7 linked regions of the Homo sapiens genome follow. The protein of the gene in region 2 purifies or fractionates together with the protein of the main gene of each other region. This does not show direct contact. Each region holds a gene or a part of one and is shown on either strand. Other genes may lie near its edges.

What was found.
Region 1: the proteins of CLEC16A (region 2) and AARS2 purify together in Homo sapiens (affinity purification with mass spectrometry, with the first as the bait; one study listed by BioGRID). This does not show direct contact.
Region 3: the proteins of CLEC16A (region 2) and NPEPPS purify together in Homo sapiens (affinity purification with mass spectrometry, with the first as the bait; one study listed by BioGRID). This does not show direct contact.
Region 4: the proteins of CLEC16A (region 2) and PDS5A purify together in Homo sapiens (affinity purification with mass spectrometry, with the first as the bait; one study listed by BioGRID). This does not show direct contact.
Region 5: the proteins of CLEC16A (region 2) and GCAT purify together in Homo sapiens (affinity purification with mass spectrometry, with the first as the bait; one study listed by BioGRID). This does not show direct contact.
Region 6: the proteins of CLEC16A (region 2) and CAPRIN1 purify together in Homo sapiens (affinity purification with mass spectrometry, with the first as the bait; one study listed by BioGRID). This does not show direct contact.
Region 7: the proteins of CLEC16A (region 2) and PDCD6 purify together in Homo sapiens (affinity purification with mass spectrometry, with the first as the bait; one study listed by BioGRID). This does not show direct contact.

The regions. Positions count from the first base shown.
Region 1 is NC_000006.12:44,298,231-44,300,789, forward strand, and holds the end of AARS2 (alanine--tRNA ligase, mitochondrial), read right to left. Parts: intron 2,482-2,559; coding exon 2,317-2,481; 3' UTR 501-2,316; downstream 1-500. UniProt on the Homo sapiens protein: Catalyzes the attachment of alanine to tRNA(Ala) in a two-step reaction: alanine is first activated by ATP to form Ala-AMP and then transferred to the acceptor end of tRNA(Ala). Also edits incorrectly charged tRNA(Ala) via its editing domain.
Region 2 is NC_000016.10:10,947,564-10,951,063, reverse strand, and holds part of CLEC16A (protein CLEC16A), read right to left. Parts: intron 1-3,500. UniProt on the Homo sapiens protein: Regulator of mitophagy through the upstream regulation of the RNF41/NRDP1-PRKN pathway. Mitophagy is a selective form of autophagy necessary for mitochondrial quality control.
Region 3 is NC_000017.11:47,583,108-47,586,607, forward strand, and holds part of NPEPPS (puromycin-sensitive aminopeptidase), read left to right. Parts: intron 1-2,392; coding exon 2,393-2,593; intron 2,594-3,040; coding exon 3,041-3,137; intron 3,138-3,257; coding exon 3,258-3,291; intron 3,292-3,500. UniProt on the Homo sapiens protein: Aminopeptidase with broad substrate specificity for several peptides. Involved in proteolytic events essential for cell growth and viability. May act as regulator of neuropeptide activity.
Region 4 is NC_000004.12:39,862,912-39,866,411, forward strand, and holds part of PDS5A (sister chromatid cohesion protein PDS5 homolog A), read right to left. Parts: intron 549-3,500; coding exon 425-548; intron 163-424; coding exon 1-162. UniProt on the Homo sapiens protein: Probable regulator of sister chromatid cohesion in mitosis which may stabilize cohesin complex association with chromatin. May couple sister chromatid cohesion during mitosis to DNA replication.
Region 5 is NC_000022.11:37,810,934-37,814,165, forward strand, and holds part of GCAT (2-amino-3-ketobutyrate coenzyme A ligase, mitochondrial isoform 2 precursor), read left to right. Parts: intron 1-1,953; coding exon 1,954-2,055; intron 2,056-2,343; coding exon of another isoform or gene 2,344-2,529; coding exon 2,530-2,676; intron 2,677-3,232. UniProt on the Homo sapiens protein: Pyridoxal phosphate (PLP) dependent enzyme, which catalyzes the cleavage of 2-amino-3-oxobutanoate to glycine and acetyl-CoA.
Region 6 is NC_000011.10:34,089,731-34,093,230, reverse strand, and holds part of CAPRIN1 (caprin-1), read right to left. Parts: intron 3,053-3,500; coding exon 2,942-3,052; intron 2,703-2,941; coding exon 2,553-2,702; intron 1,326-2,552; coding exon 1,175-1,325; intron 1-1,174. UniProt on the Homo sapiens protein: mRNA-binding protein that acts as a regulator of mRNAs transport, translation and/or stability, and which is involved in neurogenesis, synaptic plasticity in neurons and cell proliferation and migration in multiple cell types.
Region 7 is NC_000005.10:312,560-315,474, reverse strand, and holds the end of PDCD6 (programmed cell death protein 6), read right to left. Parts: intron 1,059-2,915; coding exon 960-1,058; 3' UTR 501-959; downstream 1-500. UniProt on the Homo sapiens protein: Calcium sensor that plays a key role in processes such as endoplasmic reticulum (ER)-Golgi vesicular transport, endosomal biogenesis or membrane repair.

The sequences.
Region 1 (2,559 bases), on a different chromosome or scaffold from region 2:
CGCTCCTTCACACAGTCCATGCCCTGTGCCAAACTCTCTTCCAGCCCTGGCGCGACAAGATGTGGTTGGGGCCCCAGATCTCCTGGAGGGCGAGAGGGACAGACCAGAGGGACGGCTAGTAAAAAAAAAGAAATTGGCCTTCAGGAAGGGAGAGGCAGCCAGGGTGGCGGGGCTTTCAAAGGGTAGCTTTGACTTCAGCTCTGCCGAGGACTACTAGTTGGTTACCCTGGATGAACATCTCGAAGCTCTGTTAACTCATCAATAAATCAGGGGTGCCAAAACTCATCTTGGCGCTCGCGGAGGAGCTTGAACCTGGGCCTGTGGTGAGCACTGCTAAACAGGCTACTGCCCCAGTGGCCAGGATGCTGCTTTGCAAGCAGTGAGGGGCCAGGCACCCGGGATTGGGTCCCTTCAAGCCCTCAGCAGTGCCTTACCAGCAAATCATCAGTGCCTTAATTAGAATGAGAAACTGCAGAAAATGATGCCAGGCGGGCCCACGCTGCTCGAATAATTTTTACTAGACAGAATTTGGTAGCCAGGGAGCCCTTGATTTGAAGATGGATCCCCTGAGGCCCTTTCCTTCATCTAGCAACAGAGATCTAGGAACAAAGGCAGAGGTCCAAAGTCTGGCTGTCTGAGGTGGACTCATTCTGGTAGGGAAGGAGGGCTTTCCTCCATCTCTGCTTCCTCCTGCTTTGAAGTGCCAATTTTCAGCTTCAGCTCAGGCTTGAGGCAGGTGCTGTACAACTTGTTTTAATAAGCATATTGTTTGTCTGACCCCGCTCTCCAGCCTCCTCACCTGCCCCTATCCCAGCTCACTGCTCAGTGGCACTGGCCACCTCACGGCCTCTGCATTGGCTGTTCCCTCAGGCTGGAATGCTTTTCCCTGATTTCCACACGGGTCACACCCTCACCTCCCAGCTCCCTGCTCACATGTCACCTCTTGGTGAGGGAATATCACCATCCACACTCCTGATCCCCATTCTCTATTTCCCCCCCAGACCTCATCACCATCTGACACTTTCTCCCTTCTTTTTTTTAAGACAGGGTCTCACTCTGTTGCCTGGAGTGCAGTGGTGCAATCATAGCTCACTGCGGCCTTGAATTCCTGGGCAAAGTGATTTTCCCACCTCAGCCTCCCAAGTAGCTGGGACCAAGGTGTGGGTAGTCTCAGCTACCTGGGAGGCTGAGGCATAAAGATTACTTTTTTTTTTTTTTGTAGACAGGGTCTTGCTGTTTGCGCAGGCTGGTCTTGCACTTCTGGCCTCAAGCGATTCTCCAACCTCAGCCTCCTAAAATGCCAGGATTATAGGCATGAGCCACCAAGCCTGACCCTCTTCTTTTGCTTTATTTCCTGTTTCCTCCACATGAAGCAGGCTCCATGAAGGAAGGAACTGTCAGTTTAGTGCCCGCCACGTTCTCAGTTGCTCAATTCATCAACAAACCAGCAGGGCCCAATTTAAATTAGAGGTCATTGTTAATGAAAGAAGTAATAGCAAAGAAGGTCTCCAGTGCTGAAATGATTTTCACAGGATGGTTCTGTATCTTCCCAGTAGCCAGGGAGCCCTTTGTCTGCCCACTGTTGCCTGGCACGCAGAGCCTGTCCGAACACTCATGGCAATGAAGATGGCCCGATTTGGATCCTGGGTGGCCTTTCAGACAGTGTGAGTTCAGACTGGTCTTAGGTTGCTGGGAGGGGCAAAACTACTCTTTTTTAAAGGTAATAGAACCTTCTGGAGCTTGCTATCCTCTGTGAAATAATTATTTGAGACAGAGTCTCGCTCTGTCACCCAGGCTGGAGTGCAGTGGTGCGATCTTGGCCCACTGCAACCTCCACCTCCCAGGTTCAAGCGATTCTTCTGCCTCAGCCTCCCGAGTAGCTGGGACTACAGGCGTGTGCCACCACACCCGGCTAATTTTTTGTATTTTTAGTAGAGATGGGGTTTCACCATGTTAGCCAGGATGGTTTTGATCTCCTGACCTCATGATCTACCTGCCTCGGCCTCCCAAAGTGCTTGGATTACAGGTGTGAACCACCACACCCGGCCAGTGAAATAATTTCTAATGTGCAGTCACAGCCATAATTGTCCATGTCTTCTCTTTCACCAAGGGGGTGTGTGTCTTTGGGCCCAGTTCTGCCTTCCCTAGCCCATGTCTCCTTGTGTCACGTAGGCCCTGGCCCAGGTGATCTTCTTTGGCTCAGCTGCTTGGCCTCCAGCCTCTAGTCCTCGCTTCAGCATGTGGGAAGGTTCTGCTGGCTCCTTCAGGGCTCCTGGCATTGCCTTTAGTCCATGTGGGTCCCTGGGCGGACCTGGGTCAGAGCTGGCTGAGGGCATAGGTTTGGGCTATACTGAGGGCAGCTTCCAGGTCAGTAGTGCTTCCGGTGCCTTGGGCCACCACTCGTGAGCCCCACGCCTTGCCCCCCATGTGGCTGCACACTGCCAGTGCCCAGGCCTCTGCTGTGAAGGTGGGCATGGCACCCTAGGAACAGAATCAGAAGAGGAAGCGATGCAGAGTGGCCCTCCCTGCCAGCATCCACTCAAGGTACCCTCAAGAGTG
Region 2 (3,500 bases):
CCACTACAGTTAATAATGCCCCATATCCTTCAAAAATTAGCAATTCAGTCCATTTCAGAGACAGGAATACTAGGTCCAAGTTCATTTCAGTGACAGCATTTTCTGCACGTGCTATGCCTTGCACCATAATGAGCTTATTAGGATGCTCCTCCTTCAAGATTTTGAAATGTACATTTGCAAGGTGGGGCATGAGAAAGGATAAGCAGAATGATAGGAGGTCTGGGGGTTAGAAATTTACCCCCCAATGTCCACACAGCTCCAAATAACAATGTCTCAGGTGTGGTAGAGGGATGGGAGACACAGAGCCTGTATCTGTCTGGCCTGTTCAGCACTCGGGCAGAGGCCCTGCAGACGTTCCCCAGTGTGTCCCACTCTGTGCCCTGAAAACCACCATCTGGTCAGTGTTCAGCCTTCTGGCCAGCAGGACAAGGAGAAGCTTCACGGAGGGTGGAATCAGGCTAGAGGATTAGAGAAGGTGTTCACAGGCTGTGCTTCCCCTGGTGAATCATCCCCCAAAGATGTCAAACAGGGCCGGCAAGTGAGGCTGGGCCGGGGATGTGTAGGGTATAGGCAGGGCTATACCCTAGCTTTCTTTAGGGCTTTAGCCCTAGAGAAAGTCATGGCTGTGGCACAGGTGCTGTGACTAAACTGGGGAGAACAAGCAGTTGTTGGGAAAAGACTGGCCTTTTCTGAAAACAGAGGTCTGCCTCTCGTTCATCCTGTGACAAATATTTGTTGATTGCTTACTATCTGCCACGTCCTGTGCTGGCATACCAGTACCCAGCTGAACAAGCCATACAGGCTTTCATGATTCTTATGTTCAAATTGGGAGAAAACAACAAAAAAGATATGTAACAAAGGAAGACAATGTCTGATAGCCAAAGGACAGGAACCCCGGCCAGCTTCCTGAGGGTCTAACTCAAGGCCGAGATGAAACTTTAAGAACGCACAGGAGCTAACAGCCGACCCACTCTTTGGCGATGAGAAGTATATAATAATGTGTTAACTGTGTGGGACAGTGTGAACAGGCACAGAAGAAGTTAGAGAAGACAGCAAAACTCTTGTTGGCTGAAGTCACCAGGGCAATTTTTAGGGAAGAACTGGCATTTTCGGGATAGAGCTAGGGATTTGGATGGGCAGGAGGAAAAGAGCAGGGGACCTCAAGTGGGCAGGCGAGGTATGTGTGTGAGTGGACCACCAACAGGAGATACACCTGGATGACAGCAGCTGCTACCGTAACTCACCAGGGGACGGCAGCAGAGCCCCTGCTCCCCGCCCCACCAACACATGTGGAGGCCCACCTCCAGTCTGCCCCTCATCCAATCCATTCTGCCAGCTTCAGCCAGACCACAGCCTTTCTGTAGTTAAAAAACCTTCAGTGGCTCCCTACTGTTCTCACTCATAGTCTGAATTCCTTAAAGTGATTTACAGGGCCCCAGGGGACCTGGCCTCTGGAGACTGCCAAGCATGGCTCTGAGCTTGGGTCCTCACTTCCTCTTCACCCAGTGAACACTCCCCTGCTGAACCACGTGAGTTCTGCCAATGTGCACTGCTCCCCTTGCCCCACTAGGCTTTCTCAAATGCCTTTTCCTCTGCCTGAAACATCCTTCCTTCCACCTGACACCCCGCTGCCTGGTAACAACGACTCACCCCGTTGGTCTCCATTTAAACAGCGTCTGCCTAACAAGGATGTTCCTAACTCCCTGTGCTCCCAAACTAGATGGTGGGAAGGCCTGGAAGAACTTAGACGTGACATAGTGGGAGCCTAGGACCCATAATATGTGGCATGGTGAAGACGATATTTTAAGAAAATCAACATGGCAATATTGTACCCCAAGCTCTAACACTGTCAGTGCCACCTTAGCCAAAACTTGAAAGCACCAAGAGTAGGTGTGCGTCTGTCTACCTGCCATGGATCCATTCTCCGCCTTCTTTGGGCAATAACCCCTGATTCTCCCATGGGGAACCACTCTTTTCTCTCATTCTTTTCCACTAGCTTGAGTGGAGCTAATCCCACTCTTGCTCCAGGGAAGGGAATATGAGTGAGGAATGGCCAATCAGATCCCCCTATACCTTTGGCCAGAGTGACAGTTCAGGGGTGGCATGAGACCTTGCTGGTCCAGGGATACTCAATCTCAATTCTGGACTTCTGCTGGCAATATTGAGAAAAGAAGCTCTCTTTTTCCTCAGGAATGCTAAGCTGATATGATGTAAGCCTGCAGCCTGCCTGAAAATGACACCAACAGGAAAAAGGTAGAGCTGAAAGGTGGAAAAAGGCCGATTTCTGACGGCTCCAAACACCTGGATTCAGCCATGGTTTAGCGGGGACAGACCATTCAGTGACATGAGCTATTCAATCCATTTGAGGCTTAAGGCAATTCTAGCTGGGTTTCTGTCACTGGAACCAAAAATCTTGACCCCCACACAAAGTGGACCAGAATGAAGGCCACAATACAAAAACGACCAATTTCTACCAGCCGCAGACTTGCAGTCCCTGGTAAAGATGATGTTTCAGTAGCAATCAAACGATTCCATCACTCAGGCTTCCGCTTGGTGGTGGACATTTGTCAGTCAATGTCACAGCCTTGCCACTAATCTGGACAATAAACCACCCATGGTGTGTAGCAAATAACCTCTTGACTACTTCAATCTGCCTGAGCTAAATCACTAACTCAGTTCAGCAGACAGAGACCACAGGTATGAAGTTTTCTACCATTTAGCAAAAGTAAAACCCTAACAGGAAAATTCCTTTCCAGTTTGCAAGCTGGGAGTGTTACAAAGAATAATGAAGCTAAAAACAGTTTCCAGCTCTCTGTGCTATCTTCTCAACCTTTCTGTAAATCTCAAACTGTTCTAAAAAAGTAAAGTCTAGGCCGGGTGCAGTGGCTCATGCCTGTAATCCCAGCACTTTGGGAGGTCAAGGAGGGCAGATCACAAGGTCAGGAGATCGAGACCATCCTGGCTAACACGGTGAAACCCCGTCTCTACTAAAAATACAAAAAATTAGCTGGGCGTGGTGGCGGGCGCCTGTAGTCCCAGCTACTCTGGAGGCTGAGGCAGGAGAATGGCGTGAACCCGGGAGGCGGAGCTTGCAGTGAGCCAAGATCGTGCCACTGCACTCCAGCCTGGGCAACAGAGCAAGACTCTTATCTCAAAAAAAAAAAGAAGAGGGTTTCCAGATGCCTTGTGTATTTAAAAAATAATAATAATAAATAAATAATTCTTTTAACTATCTTAAACTTTCCCTCTCCATCCATACTGCTCTAGGTCAAGGTAAGAGTGTATTAAGAACTGTCACTTGTCACTGGTAGGGTGACCAGTTTATACTAGTTTGTCCAGGACTTTCCCAGTTTTAGCACTGAAAGTCCCATATCCTGGGAAACCCCTCAGCCCAGGCAAACCAGGACGGTTGGTCACCCGAAGTGTCAGATAAATCCCAAGCCCCTTCCTACTTCCAGCCTTGTTTCCCACAGCTATCAGCCCCCACCTGGACATGCCAC
Region 3 (3,500 bases), on a different chromosome or scaffold from region 2:
AAAGTGCTGGGATTACAGGCATGAGCCACCATGCCCAGCCAAGACCTCTTTTTCTTGATAGCTTTATTTTTGGAGGATTTTCTCTTTGTCAAATTCCTCGTTAAATACATTTATAAGATTATCTACTTCTTTTAATTTAGAGAGGTAAATTGACAAGTTTAATAGATTTATAGTAACTAAAAGCAAAAGGTCTTGGGCTGGATATGGTGGCTTACACCTGTCATCCCAGCACTTTGGGAAGTCAAGGTAGGCAGATCGCTTGAGGTCAGGAGTTGAAGACCAGCCTGGCCAACATGGTGAAAACCTGTCCTTACTAAAAATACAAAAATTATCTGAGTGTGGTTGCACACACCTGTAGTCCCAGCTAGTTGGGAGGCCGAGGTGGGAGGATCACTTGAACCCAGGAAGCGGAGTTTGTAGTGAGCTGAGATCACACCACTGCACTCCAGCCTGGGTGACAGAGCCAGACCCTATCTCAGAAAAAAAAAAAAGAAAAAGGTCTTGACTTATTAAATGTCATAAGAAAGCCAGGTACAGTGACTCTTGCTTGTAATCTCAGTGCTTTGGGAGGCTAAGGCAGGAGGATTGCTTGAGGCCAGGAGTTTGACACCAGTCTGGGCAACATAGTGAGACCTCATTTCTACAAAAGATTTAAAACTTAAAAGTTAGCCAGGTATGGTGGCACGTGTCTGTAATCCTAACTACTTGGGAGGCTAATGTGGGAGGATCTCTCGAACTTAGGAGTTTGAGGCTACAGGGAGCCGTGATTGTGCCACTGTATTCCAGCCTGGGTGACAGAACAAGACCCCATCTCTTAAAAAAAAAAAAATAGGCCAGGCATGGTGGCTCATGCCTGTAATCCCAGCACTTCAGGAGGCTGAGGCAGGTGGATCATTTGAGGCCAGGAGTTCGAGACCAGCCTGGCCAACATGGTGAAACCCCATCTCTACTAAAAATACAAAAATTAGCCAGATATGGTGGCAGGCACCTGTAACCCCAGCTACTTGGGAGGCTGAGGCAGGAGAATTGCTTGAACCTGGGAGGTGGAGGCTGCAGTGAGTTGAGATCGCGCCACTCCACTCCAGCCTGGGTGACAGAGCAAGACTCCATCTCGGGGGAAAAAAAAAAAAAAGGTTGCAACAGAGCAAGACCCTGTCTCTTATGTTTTTAAAAAGTTAAAAAAATTCAAAAGATGTAGCTGCGTAATGAAGTATATTTAGGTCTCTGGCTGTTTGTATTCTTGGAATGTATTCTCTTCACCAGTGTTATTGATCTCATTCATGAACAGGGTAAGCATTCCCCACTTGAAGTGTGTTGTCTAGGACTGTCTTGTGTGGGGAACTTGGAAAAACCTGCTGCACCTGAAAATAACTCTTTTATGTATTTATTGGGGGAGAGCATCCCATAAATAGAATGTCATTCTCTTCTCACATATTCTTAGAAGAGGAGGCTAATATATTAAACGGAAATATTCATTCACACTTTAGTATGAGTGAATTTATCAGTGTGTTCTTGAATAAGTCTTCCTTGGAAGGAAGAATAGAGAGAGCTTGAGGAAACAGAGCCTGAATAGGAAAAAGAGGGAGAACACCAAAGGAAATTAGGGACTCCAAAGGTAAAGTTGAAATTTCTTCACAAATAAGCTTAGAGCCAACTTTGGTAGAGAATGCCCTCGATCTAGAAGTTTGTATCCTTTGAAATGGGAGATTCTACAATTATATTATATTTATTTATTTTTGAGAAGGAGTCTCGCTGTGTCGCCCAGGCTGGAGTGCAGTGGTGTGATCCCAGCTCACTGCAAGCTCCGCCTCCCTAGTTCACGACATTCTCCTGCCTCAGCCTCCCAAGTAGCTGGGATTACAGGCACCCCCCACCATGCCTGGCTAATGTTTTGTATTTTTAGTAGAGATGGGGTTTCACCATGTTAGCCAGGATGGTCTTGATCTCCTGACCTTGTGATTCGCCTGCCTAAGCCTCCCAAAGTGCTGGTATTACAGGCGTGAGCCACCGCGCCTAGCCCCTATTTTATTTTTATTAATAGTCATTTTCTCCTAAACTTATGTCAGTTGAAAAGTATGAAGCCCTTAACTTAAATCATCCCAATGCCTGGCTTATAATAAGTATTTGAGAAAAGTCCATTCCTCTTTTCTTTCACAGGTCCTTGGTAGTTTTAACACTTCAGCCTCCAGCTTCTTAGTATGAGTGTTTTATCAGACCACTTTCCTTCTTAAAGACAGCATAAAAGCACTGGATGAATTGGGGTAGAGAAATAAGCCATGCTAGAATAGAAAGGGGTAAAGAGATGCAATAAAGCCTACAGTTTTTGGCTGGTATTTGCTCTATGGTATTAATGTAAACCTATTTAAATTTTTCTTTTTTTTATTTCTTAAAGAATGTAATTGACCGGAAACCATACCCTGATGATGAAAATTTAGTGGAAGTGAAGTTTGCCCGCACACCTGTTATGTCTACATATCTGGTGGCATTTGTTGTGGGTGAATATGACTTTGTAGAAACAAGGTCAAAAGATGGTGTGTGTGTCCGTGTTTACACTCCTGTTGGCAAAGCAGAGCAAGGAAAATTTGCGTTAGAGGTAAATGTACTTGAAGAGGATTGTTCCAACAGTCCATAACTCCAGGTTGGGGAATTTACATTTCTGGTCAATTATTAGTACAGTTATTTATAATTTAATCTGAAAGTTGTGCTACTTGGTTTATTTTTAGTAGAATTTAGGAAATGCCAACCTTGGTGTTTCATTATTTTACAAAATAATAATTAAGAGAATATAAGAGTGGAATTTCTCTAGGGAATGGGTTGGAAAATATGTAGTTATATTTTTCATATCAAGTTATAAATGGATTAAAGTTTGGCCATTGTATTCAAAGTTTGGAGCTAAGGCAGTCTTCGGAGGGTAGGGCTCCTCGGGATTCATTTCTAGTAATTTAAGATACATTGGCTTGCAACAGGATTCCTTTGTGGGTTTCAATATGAATTATAATAACATATTTATTAGATGGTTATTTTGTTTATACTTTTATAGGTTGCTGCTAAAACCTTGCCTTTTTATAAGGACTACTTCAATGTTCCTTATCCTCTACCTAAAATTGATCTCATTGCTATTGCAGACTTTGCAGCTGGTAAAGTAAATTTCATTTTATTGCTGAATTGTAATAACTTTTTAAAATTTTGTGACTTTTGATGCAAGAGTATATATATATATATATATATCAATAAATGTTTATATTTATTTTGTGAAGGTGCCATGGAGAACTGGGGCCTTGTTACTTATAGGTATGTTAATGATGTGTTACCCTGCCTTATCTTTTCAAATCACTGATTTCAAAAGGGCTTCCCTCCTAATCACAGTTGAGTAGCTTCTGCTTTACGATATGGTGTAAATTTTTCTACCTTCCCCCACTTCCGTGCACATTTCAAGAATGCAGATGGACACCCCTCCCTTTGGTGCTACTGTCTGAGGGTGTAAGATTTTAAAGTGAGCA
Region 4 (3,500 bases), on a different chromosome or scaffold from region 2:
GATATTTTTCAGTAAACATTGTCGTGCGTGTGCTCTTCTCTCCTTCACAGGATCTTTGGCACACAAGGCAAAGATCGCCATATACTCCAATGGGAGCAGTAACTTCACAAGTGCCTTATGCAGCTTCTGAGCAAATATCTGCCTTACTTGGTAACACTCATCCTACAGCAGCACAGAAAAACTTAAATTGGCAACCATTTATTAAATAAAAAACAGCAGTTTAAGTATTTTTAGTGTCTTCAATTAAAAAGAAGATAATTATATGGGAGAATAAATAATGTAATAATTGGAAGACAGTTAAACAGGTAATAATAGTAGTGACTTTTGTGCATATATTCACATTATAAATGGATTTGTATCCATAGAAAAGTAATGTATTCAACTTTGAAGATAAGTAATTGACAAAAATAAGATTGTTACTTACATTAATAACAAGTGCACAGAGCTGAAACTGTTCTGGGGTAATAATTTCATGGTAACAAGGTTCCTGAGCAAGCTTCATTATGGCACTACCAGCAGCTAATCGCAAGCGAGACATATCAGATTTACTATAAACAAACAAAAAAGAAATAAACATTTCCTATAACCACTATCATTCATAAAAATGCTTTCGTCCCTTTTTGAATGTAAGGTCCTTAGAGCATAATTTATGTTTAAAATGACGTACAAATATGGGAAAGCTACTTTGAGTCCATGAACTTAACACAGGGGATTGTGACTTTCACAATCAAATCAAATCATTGTGACTTTCTGATTACAAATTTACCTGCCTTCATTTCTAGTCAAACTCTAGCTTAGATACTTCACCACAACCCAAAAACTCTGCTTATTCTTGCAACCATAGTAATTGCAAGGCTAGGAAAAACTCTTTACATCAGGAGCTGTATCCCTCATTTTAAGAGAAATACATATTGATTGTAGAAAACTTGATTAAAGTGGCCAGGCATGGTGGCTCACACCTGTAATCCCAGCACATTGGGAGGCCGAGGTGGACGGATCACGAGGTCAAGAGATTGAGACCATCCTGGCCAACATGGTGAAACCCTGTTTCTACTAAAAATACAAAAAATTAGCTGGGTGTGGTGGCACGCACTTGTAGTCCCAGCTACTTGGGAGACTCAGGCAGGAGAACTGCTTGAACCTGAGAGGTGGAGGTTGCAGTGAGCCAAGGTCGCACCACTGCACTCTACCCTGGCAACAGAGTAAGACTCTGTCTCAAAAAAAACAAAAAACAAAAAACAAAAAACAAAAAAACTTGATTAAAAAAACCACAAAGAATTAAAAAAAAAATCACCTATCATCATTTAAAATCTATTTCCTGCATATAAACATGTAACAGGAATCTAGTTTAATGCCTGCTGAAATGGCAGGGCTGCAGTTAAGAGTGAAGAAGTATCAGACAAATACCTAAAGGATATGAAATATAAGAGGCCAGTGTCTGTCTTAGGTACTAGTTCCTGGGGCTGATCTCCTTTTGCAGAGTAAAGTTTTCAAATGGAACCTATGAAGCCTTGGCACTCCCACCCCGACACTGTGGATTTTTATTACTTACGTGGTAAAATGTGGTAATGAATGGGATGGCATGGGAGTCTTTCTACTTCGACTTCTATGTGGAACATAGCATGGCTTTTGTATTTATTGTGACCACTTTACGAAATGCAGAAAGCTAGCCGGAACCCACTGGGACTGTTGCTAAGCATAGAGAGAAGAAAACCTGGCACTCTTGGACAACAGGATTGTTAAAATGAGCACTGGTAACAATGAGGGAGCCTCAAATGGTTTCTATGGCATTCATTCAGGAATCAAAGTTAATAGCTATTATGTGAGTGCTTACTCCGTGCCAGGCAGGTGTGAAAAACACTTTATAGGCTTTATCTCAATTAATTTTCACTCCATAAGATGAGGAAATTGAGGCTTACAAAAGGTAATACTATATTATATGATATCCAGTTAGGATCTGTCCAATGGGTGTTCATTCTATGGTTAACCATTCCCCTATTTTTTGTGATGGAAAATAATGCTGGAGGAACATGCTTGTGTATAAGCTTTCATATGATTCTTTTATACTCATGAATTATGAGTGTAAAAATAAAGAGTCAAGGATAACATTTTTGAGGATCTAGATGCAAAATGCCAAAGAGTCCTGCTAATTTATACTCATAGGAGTAATGAAGGAACCCATTTCCATGATCATACTGAGGAATGATTGCTTATAACGTTTTTTTTTCTTTCTGATTTGTAATGAAAAGAGGTATTGATTAAGTTTAAATTGTATTGACTGCATTTAGTGATGTTAAACTTTTAAAAGTAAACTGATAATAGCTAAACTTCATCTCCACTGGGGGTCCTGCCTAGGTATCACTGACTTGTAAGAGCTCATTATTATGCCTTTGCCATGTACTGTACATAATTACCCCCAATTTAAAGCTTTCATTATCCCTAACTCAGCTCTAAACAGTGTTATAAAAGGCTGCCTTTGGCTTATTCTATGATAAAAATAGAGCGTAGTGGTGCACACCTATAGTCCCACTACTCAGGAGGCTGAGGCAGGAGGATTGCTTGAGCCCAGCTAGCCTGGGCAACATAGTGAGATCCCATTCCTAATCACAATAATTTTTAAAAAAATTAATAGCATAGCAGTACCACATAACTAGCCAAAGCTGGAGTACAATGGCGTGATCTTGGCACACTGCAACCTCCACCTCCTGGGTTCAAGTGATTTTCATGCCTTAGCCTCCCCAGTAGCTGGGATTATAGGCACGTACCACCACACCTGGCTAAATTTCTATATTTTTAGTAGAGACAGGGTTTCAACATGACCTCAATTGATCTGCCTGACTTGGCCTACCAAAGTGCTGGGATTACAGGCGTAAGCCACTGCACTCAGCCTCATAAAGAATGATTAAACCTCTGTCCTCTAAAACAAATTTTTAAAAAGGAATGCATCATATGTAGAATACTTTAGTTATCTATGTTGGTAATCTTGGCCCCTACTAAATCAAGAATTTGACAGAAACCAGGATCATGAAAAACTGAGCTTCTATTTTCATCTTAAAATGAGATGGCAATTTTAGAGATTAAAAGTGAAAATGTGTAACAATGTAAACAATCTCTGTGTGCACATACAAGTGTACACACCCAAATCTGTAGAACAACAAGAAGGCTTCAACTCTCCCTTGAGTTGCCATTGCAATTTTTATTTTTATTTATTTATTTATTTTGAGACAGGCTCTCGCTCTGTTGCCCAGGCTGGAGTGCGGTGGCACGATCTCAGCTCACTGCAACCTCTGCCTTCTGGTTTCAAGCGATTCTCCTGCCTCAGCCTCCTGAGTAGCTGGGATTACAGGCATGTGCCACCATGCCTGGCTAATTTTTGTTTTTTGTTTTAGTAGAGACGGGGTTTCACCATATTGGCCAGGCTGGTCTTGAACTCCTGACCTCGTGATCTGCCCGTCTCGGCCTCCCAAAATGCTGGGATTACAGGCATAGGCCACCGCGCC
Region 5 (3,232 bases), on a different chromosome or scaffold from region 2:
GCATTCATTTTCCCACCTGCAAAACAGAGTCCCTCACACCTGACCTTCTATAAGAAAAGAGGAGTAGGCGGCAGGAACTGAGACTAAGGGCTCTGGGGCTGTTCTGACGGGAGCACAGTTGCCAGTGCTGCCCTTTAGTGTCCCTGTTCCTGTGGGCAAGTATCTTAACTTTTCTCTGTCTCAATTACTTCATAGGGAAAATGAAGATAATAGCACTTAATAGGATCATTACAAATTAAAGACTTAATACATGTAATGCTTAGAATAGGCCGGGCGCAGTGGCTCATGCCTGTAATCCCAGCACTTTGGGAGGCTGATGCAGGCGGATCACCTGAGGTCAGGAGTTCAAGACCAGCCTGGCCAACATGGCGAAACCCTTTCTCTACAAAAATATAAAAATTAGCTGGCATGATGGTGGGTGCCTGTAATCGCAGCCACTTGGGAGGCTGAGGCAGGAGAATCGCTTGAACCTAGGAGGTGGAGGTTGCAGTGAGCTGAGATCACGCCACTGCACTCCAGCCTGAGCAACAGAGTGAGACTCTGTCTCAAAAAAAAAAAAAAAAAAAAAAAGCATAGAACAGCCTGGCACATAGTACTGCTCAATGAATGTTGGCTATTATTTATTTTCCAAATGTTACAAAATAAATTTATATAAGTATGAAACTTAAATAGTACTTATTATGTGCCAGGAATTCTTTTAAGAAAATTACAACTATTGGCCAGGCGTGGTGGCTTATGCCTGTAATCCAGGCACTTTGGGAGGCCGAGGTGGGTGGATTACTGAGTTCAAGACCAGCCTGGCCAACATGGTGAAACCCTGTCTGTGCTAAAAATACAAAAATTAGCTGGCCGGGCTCGCTTGAACCCATGAGGCAGGGGTTGCAGTGAGCCACGACGGTGCGACCACACTCCAGCCTGGGTGACAGAGGGAAACTCTGTCTCAAAAAAAAAAAAAAAAGAACATTACAAGTATTAACTCATTAATCCTAAGTGATAGTTGCTATTCTTATTCCCGCTATTGAGATGAGGACACTGAGATCCAGAGAGGTTAAGTGACTTGCCCAGAGGCACACAGCCTGTTGTGGGATTTGAACCCTGGCTCAAGAGTCCATGCTGGCTGGGCATGGTAGTTCACACCTGTAATCCCAATACTTTTGGAGCCCAAAGCAGAAGGATCACTTGATGCCTGGAGTTTGAGACCAGCCTGGGCAACATAGCAAGACCCTCTCTCTAAAAAAAAAAAAATGTTTTTAATTAGCTGGGTGTGGTGGTGCGCACCTGTAGTCCCAGCTACTAGGGAGGGGAGGCTGAGTTGGGAGGATCACTTGAGCCCAGGAGTTCAAGGCTACAGTAAGCTATGGTCTCACTACTGCACTCCAGCCTGAGTGACAGAGAATCCCTGTCTCATTTGCCAAAAAAAAGAAAGAGTCTGTGCTCCTGACTACTTGTGATTATCATTAACTGCCCTCTCAGAAAGGTGAGAGTGAAATGAATGTCAGAGGCAGAACTCCTGACTCGCATCCAGTCACTTCCCAGCAAAGCCCTCACCCAGACCCAACAGTTTTCAAATTTACAAATTAGAGGCCCAGGTGAACCCAGAATTACCTCTGTGATCTTTTTCTTCACCATTAGGCGACCAAAAAAGACACTCAGTATGGTGTTAGGAAGACACATCTTTCTTCTCCACGAGTGCCCGTAATTCCACCATTAGACTGCCACTGTAAAACCAAAGTCTGCCCAGGGAGGGAACCTAACAGGTCCCCAGTTCCTCAGTGGGAACTGTCTGTCAGATTCCTGGCAGCTCTGGGATAGCCCATGTGTGGCAGAAAGTAAGGAGACTGAGGCTGCAGGCTTTCTGGGTTGGGTCTCTGTGGTCCTCCAAGCCTCTGTCCCCTCGAACTTGTCCCACATGACCCCACAGGCATCAACACGTGTCTCACTCATTTTCTTCAGAGCATCCACAAGAATCTAGAAGCAAAAATAGCCCGCTTCCACCAGCGGGAGGATGCCATCCTCTATCCCAGCTGTTATGACGCCAACGCCGGCCTCTTTGAGGTGTGTGGAAGCTGTCCTGCGGGTGAGGGTTGGTGGGGCCTGTTAGGCTGAGGAAGGCTTGGGTGTGGGCAGTCGGGAGAACCTAGCAGGATTCAGTGCCATGCCTAGAGGCTCCAGAGCCCGCTTCTGGAGGTCAAGGTTGGGCCAGGTAGGTGCTCCAGGAGGAATCCTGGGGCTTGCAGGGAGCCTGAGTTCCAGAGCCTTTGGGGGATAAGCTACATCAGCTGGAAGGCTGGGGGAGGCGGGGGCCTGGTACTCACCAAATATATTCTCACCTCCTCTTACTAGAGCAGGGCGCTGGTCCAGCCCGGCACTGAGACACGGGGGCCCCAGAGAGAAGCACAGAACACCTTGCCTCTCTACCCAGAGGAGCGCCCTGGCTGGCAGTACAGTTTTTTGATTTGCTGGAGTCCCGGTCAAGGGAGAAGCCCAGGGTGGTTAAATGATGGCTCTACGCTCACTGCCTCCCTCCAGGCCCTGCTGACCCCAGAGGACGCAGTCCTGTCGGACGAGCTGAACCATGCCTCCATCATCGACGGCATCCGGCTGTGCAAGGCCCACAAGTACCGCTATCGCCACCTGGACATGGCCGACCTAGAAGCCAAGCTGCAGGAGGCCCAGGTGGGGCGACGCCTGGGTCCACCCTCAGCCTCCGCCTGGGGAAGGAAGTGAGGCTTAGAGAGGCCAACTCCTCACTCACAGAGATAGCCTGAAAGTTTGAAACAGCAGAGATTTGTCCAAGATGTGAACCCAGATCCCTCACACCCAGAGCATTATTCTTTTTTTTTTTTCCCTGAGACAGAGTTTCACTCTGTCGCCAAGGCTGGAGTATAGTGGTGTGATCTCGGCTCACTGCAACCTCCACCTCCTGGGTTCAAGTGATTCTCCTGCCTCAGCCTCCCAAGTAGCTGGGATTACAGGCATCCGCCACCCCACCTGGCTAATTTTTGTATTTTTAGTAAAGACGGGGTTTCATCATGTTGTCCAGGCTGGTCTCGAACTCCTGACCTCAGTTGATTTCACCCACCTAGGCCTCCCAAAGTGCTGGGATTATAGACGTGAGCCACTGTGCCTGGCACCAGAGCATTATTCCATTGTGCCATGGTGCCTTGAGGTTTTTCCCTGTGTATGTGTGACAGTCTCACTCTGTTGCCCAGGCTGTATTGCAATGGTGCAG
Region 6 (3,500 bases), on a different chromosome or scaffold from region 2:
GACAGAGACCCCATTTCTTAAAAAAATATATATATAAAAAAAAATCTAAAGTATCTCTATCGAGCTAGACAAGGTAGTTCATGCCCATAATCCCACCACTCTGGGAGACAGAGACAATAAGTTCGCTCAAGGCAAGGAGTTGGAGATCAGCCTGGCATCATAGTGAGCTCCTGGAGACCCTATCTCTACAAAAAAAAAAAAAAAATTAGCCAGCCATGGCGGTAAGCACCTGTAGTCCCAACTACCAACTACTCAGGAGGCTGAGGGAGGAGGATCATTGAGCCCAGGAGTTTGAGGCTGCAGTGAGTTATGCTGGCATCACTGCACTCCAGCCCGGGCAACAAAGTGAGAACCTGTCTCAAATACATAAAAGCGTCCCTACCTACATTACTATCGTGACAGGTATGGTAACTAGCCAAATTATGACCTTACTTGACAAAATAGATTATGTTTCAACCCAGTCCACGAAATGCAGCCACCATGAGTTTTTTCTTAACTTTGTCTAACTGACTCAATGCCAGATATCATGCTAAAAGCCTTCAATCAATTAACAATTAAAAGTATAGTTTATCACCAGGTGCAATGGCTCACGCCTTTAATTCCAGCACTTTGGGAGGCTGAGGTGGGCAGATCACGTGAGCTCAGAAGTTCAAGACAAGCCTGGGCAACATGGTGAAACCCCAACTTTACCAAAAATACAAAAAATTAGCTGGACGTGGTGGCACATGCGTGTATTCCCAAGCTACTTGGGAGGCTGAGGTAGGGAGGATTGCTTGTGTCCAGGAGGCAGAGGTTGCAGTAAGCCGAGATCACGGCACTGCGCTCCAGCCTGGGTGACAGAGTGAGACCCCATCTCAAAAAAAAAAAAAAAAGTACACTTTATGGTAATTCAAGTAACAAATTTAATTCCATATAAATTATACAATGCAACAGGGATATTATGTAAGTTCAGTGACAAAAGGAAAATGGCTATAAAGCCTCCAAAAATTGCACATAATTCACATATACAAGTACAGACTCAATTTAACTCATGATCTGAAATGAAAAATTCATATGGTCTGCTACTAAAACAGAAACTCTTGGACACCACCACTCTGAAGTCTAAACTGTCCTAACACTGTCAATAACTGTGCTGGAAAGCAAGGAGCCAATGAGGTGACACTGGATTTCGTACCTGTTTGAAGCTGTTCTTGCTGAAGCTCTGTTTGTTCTACTTGGTGAGGCTGACTAGAAAAGCTCTGGTTATAACTGGCCTGGTACTGATTTTGCTGTTTTAAAGTTTCTGGTTCATTAACAGGAGGAACTGGGGCATTCATATTGAACACCTGTTAGTAAATAAAGTAAATGATTAGTTCATCCTTTTATTCTCTGGTTTATAACATGGCCAAACTCAATGGTGGTTTTACCTCAGACATAAATAAAGACATCACAGAGGTCTCAAACACAAAAACATCACACACACATACAAAAATCCCTCCAAGTGATTCAATGTGGAAAAAGACATATATACCATATAGTACTTAAAGGGGAGTATAATATGCTGTGAAATGGAAGTAGGGAATTAAAAAAAATAAAAAGACATGCAATCAGCAGCCTTGGAAATGCTTTTACATATATGAGAAATCTTTTTAAAAGACAAACTCTGGCCTGGCACAGTGGCTCACACCTGTAATCCCAGCACTTTGGGAGGCTGAGGCAGGCAGATCATCTGAAGCCAAAAGTTCAAGACCAGCCTGGCCAACATGGTGAAACCCCGTCTCTACTAAAAATACAAAAATTAGCTGGGCATGGTGGCTTATGCCTGGAGTGTCAGCTACTCCAAAGGCTGAGGCATGAGAATCGCTTGAACCCAGGAGGCGGATATTGCAGTGAGCTGAGATCACGCCACTACACTCCAGCCTGGGCGACGGAGCAAGACTTTGTCTCAAAAAATAAATAAATAAGACAAACTCCTGGATGCAGTACCACTTACAGAAGTTTGTTCTATGAACTTTAACAGGGTTGAATGTTTTTTCATTTTTATTAACATATTAATCAAAAGTTATTTTAATATTTAATCTTATGAACTTTCCTCTCAGCACCGATTTAGCTGCACCCCACAGATTATAGTATTATTATTATTTTCTAGAAATTCTCTAAAGGTGCTTGCTCAAGAATCAAGGTAAAGCATAACATCTGAAACTTCAAAATACTTCAGTAAAATAAAAGATTAAGCAAACAGGGCAACTATTAAATCTAGGTAATGATTATATGGATGTTATATTAGTCTATTTCTCTGAATGTTTAAGCTTTTGTTAATCAAATCAAAAGGGTAAAACTACAAATTAAGATGATACAGGCACATCACTCATAAGGCTAAAATTTATCTCTAGAATATCCGTTAGTATCAGTTAATCTCTGGAATAATCAGTTTATGTTCAATTAAATATACCCTACAGTTAATGAAAGATGCAGACTCAAGCACAGTTAAATGAAGACCTTTAAAAAAGAAAAGAAAATCTACCATGATTCATATTACATACTAGGCAATTAATGTTAGTTAATTTGCTTACCGTTTGCATGGATTGGAATGGAGCTGCATTTACATTGATTCCACTGCTATGTAAAGGTTTGCTTGTCCCAGCCTGAAATACTTGAGGCTGAGACGCAGCAGGAAGGGATGATGATGCTGTAGTCTGGTCTGTATTTAAAGAGATTGTTGCCTAAACACAAAGTGAATAGATGCACTTTAGCGGTAAACTAAACTTAGCCAAACAAAAAGTGAACAGATGTACTAAAGTGGTAAATTAATCTCAAACTTATATGTATTAACAAACTCAAATATTTCATGAAAGCAAAGTAGGTCCAAAAAGAAGAATCATTATATTAATGGTAATGTACATCTGTTCAATTCATGAGTAAGTGCCTCATCAAATGTATGTGACCCGGTAACAGAACTTGCCTGAATCTGATCAATTGGTTCCTTCTGTGGTCGTTGCTCTGTAGCATGAGAAGGCTGGTACAAGGGTTGAGATGCTGTGTACCCCTCACTTGTGGATGATACCAAAGGAACCTAGACATAAGTAAAGAAATAAAAGCTTCTTCCTGCTTACAAAATTGACTGTTAAAAAAACAAGTTACCTCTAAGACGCATAAGGCTAAGAAATAGATACAACTGCTAAAGAAGGGAGAAATTAATATTACCATCTCTCTTTAAATTTGTATAATATAAAACCTAAAAATTGCAAAAATATATATATTTTTGAAGCTCGACGTTAAATAAACCCAAGTCTCGTTATAAAAGCCCTCCACAAGTACTTCTAAGATGGAGAAATCTGCACTAAATTTTAGAATTATGTCTAAACTATGTCTTCTGAAATTCTCAGTTCTAAATAAAAAAGGCTTATTATATTATAATACATTATTTAAAATGCAAGACTTAAGAAAAACTTAAAAAGTCATCAAGAGGAAAAATGAACCTAAACATAAAAATAAAGGCTGACAGCTATCCACAACAATAA
Region 7 (2,915 bases), on a different chromosome or scaffold from region 2:
AGAGGCTGCAGCCCCAAAACCAGACGCATCACTGTGGAAGGGAAGCGTCTGGAGAATGAGGCTGGGCCTCGGGAGTGTCAACCCAGGAGGGCCGGCGCTGCACAGTGAGGCAGGGAGGCGGACCGGGCAGCGCTGGCAGTGGACCGAGGTGAGCAGGATGCGCTGGGTGGACAAACGCTGCAGGCCACGTGCAGAGACTGCAGGGCACAGCATGGCTAAATCATTAATGATGGAAATGCACAACCTGCTATACCAAATTGGATTTCTTCATCCAAAAGGAGCAGTCTTATGAAATTTAACCTCCTGAACAGAGGGTGAGACAGTCCCTCTGGATTTTCACAAGCAGAGCTGTGCACGCTGGGCTGGACAATGTTCCAGAAGGTGCCCGGTACCCTGGGAGGTCCCAGGCAAGCCAGAACATCTGACACTGACTGTCTGGAGGACCAGGGCACGGGGCCTGGTTCTTGGACCTATTTGATTTGAAAAGCTGAAGGCAGACCACACGTCTAACATTCCCTTTATTGCTTACGTCACATATTCCAATGAATACAATAAACTCCTTTTTAAAAAAGTAAGGCACATGAAAAGCCTTTTGTGTAAGTTCCATGTTATTTTAAAATTCCTATTGGCTAATAAAAGCATTTGCACTATAGAACCAGAGACATCTAGAAAAGCACATGATAGATTTTTTTGCAAGCAGAATGCCTGAAACATTACATTTACCTCATGGCACAATGAGACAGTCACCAAATCCAATGTCTGCATTAGAACGATACAGCTACTATTACAGTTGCAAAACCATTAATCAGCTTATCCACATATGTACAGCTGGGTCCCCACGTGACAAAATCTAAAGGAAGAACAGCATCTAACTGCACCTGTGCTCCATTCCCTCACAGATAGGAACTGTGACATTTTGGCTCTTTCCATGTTGTGCTGCTCTTCACGAGAGGCCAGGGTCATACGATACTGAAGACCATGGACAGGTACTGTTCGTACGACACCTGAATCCAGCCGTCCTGATCCGTGTCGTAACGTCTGAATATATCCGTCAACCTCTGGGGAGAAAACAGGCATTTAAATCTCGATAGTAAATGGAAGGAGCAAGGTGCACTGGGACAAAGGCATGTAGGGACCCAATTTCAGAAGCACACACGTCTTCTGGGCTCCCTGATGGAGCCCAGCACAGGGAGGCGCAGGTGGGGCTGGAGCTGTTCACACGGACGGTGGGAGTGCGAAGAACGAAGAACACAGGGCTGCGGGGCTGGCTCCGGACATCCAGCCCTGGCTGAGCCCCTGGCTGAGCCCCTGACCCCAGGCTCTGGTCTCCTGAGTCTCCTGGGGGCCTGGGCCCTTCCTTCTCCCCCTGAAGACCGTCCCGTGGAAGCCCTCCACCCTCCAGTGGCTCGCCTCTGCTGTGGGGGCCACCTGGGGCATGTGCAGCGCAGGGGATGCCCAGCCAGATGGGCTTGTGACATCACGAGGGCTTCAGGTTCCTCCAGCCCAGCCCACCCCTCCCTCTCACAGCCGAGGGTCCAGGCCAGGTCAGCGGCAGAGACAGGGTGACCACCTACACTCCTGAAACAGGGATGGTTAAGTAAGTGACACTTCAACCGTAAAATACCCTGAAGATTCAGGCCAGCATGGTGACTCTCGCCTGTGATCCCAGCACTTTGGGGGTCCGAGGCGTGAGGATCGCTTGAGCCTGAGGGTCGAGGCTGCAGTGAGCCGTGTTCGCACCACCACACTCTGGCCTGGGTGATGGAGCAAGGGTCTGTCTCAAGAAAGAAGAAGAAAATGTGGCAGGGAAGACACAGCGTCCTCGCACATCAAGACCTGCAGGAACATGGACAGGGTGTGGTGACTCTCGCCTGGGATCCCAGCTACTCAGGAGGCCAAGGCAGAAGGATCGCTTGAGCCTCAGGGTCAAGGCTGCAGTGAGCTGTTTACACCACCACATTCCAGCTGGGGTGACAAGAGTGAGACTCCATCTCAAAGAAAAAAAAACAACCCTGCAGGAATGCCACAGCCACCACCGGGCTCCTTGACTTGGCAGAGGCTACGGCCTCACCCAACTCCAAAAGCACCGCAATGGATAATGCTGGCTTAAAGAGTAATGGGTAATTTTTCTTTCTATTTTGAATACTTTGTGTTTTTCTAGGGTTTCTAGAAGTGTTCATGTTATTTGTTAGAAAATAATTTTCAAAAAGCCTTTATCCTTTCAGAAAAAGCAGATAAATAAAAACGTTTTTGAGGGAATTTTAACTTGAGGTCTGCAGCTTTCTTTTCTTTCCCATTCCCCATCTGTCTAGCGTTTAGGGTCACTCTCCAAGGGTGGGGACAGCCTGGGAATTGGCTGTCAGGCCCTCCCCACGTGGTCTGGAGCAGGGCCTTGAGGAGGCATCTCCCAGGAGGAGCTACGCTGGCTGCAGATGTGCCTTGGAAGGCGCTGGAGAGGTCGCTGTGAGGCCGCCTGTGTTACTCCAGCTACCGAAAGCTCACACAAGATCAACGTTAACTTATAGAACATAACCTCAAATGAAGATCTGAGCCCTACGGCAATTCAGACACAGAACCTCAAATGAAGATCTGAGCCCTACGGCAATTCAGACACAGAACGAGATTTTACACGGCATCTTTTCCCTTTTTCTTTTCTTTCTTTTTTAAGACAGGGTCTGGCTCTGTCACCCAGGCTGGAGTGCAGTGGTGTGATCTCGGCTCACTGAAACCTCCACCTCCCGGGTTCAAGTGATTCTCCTGCCTCAGCCTCCTGAGTAGCTGGGACTACAGGCATGCGACACCAGGCCCAGCCTACACTTTTTTGAAAGTGTTCAGAGAACATTGTAAAAATGTCATCCAACCTGGCAGGAACCCCGAGAGGCAGGGGCAGGAAAGGGTCCCCAACCGTAGAGTTT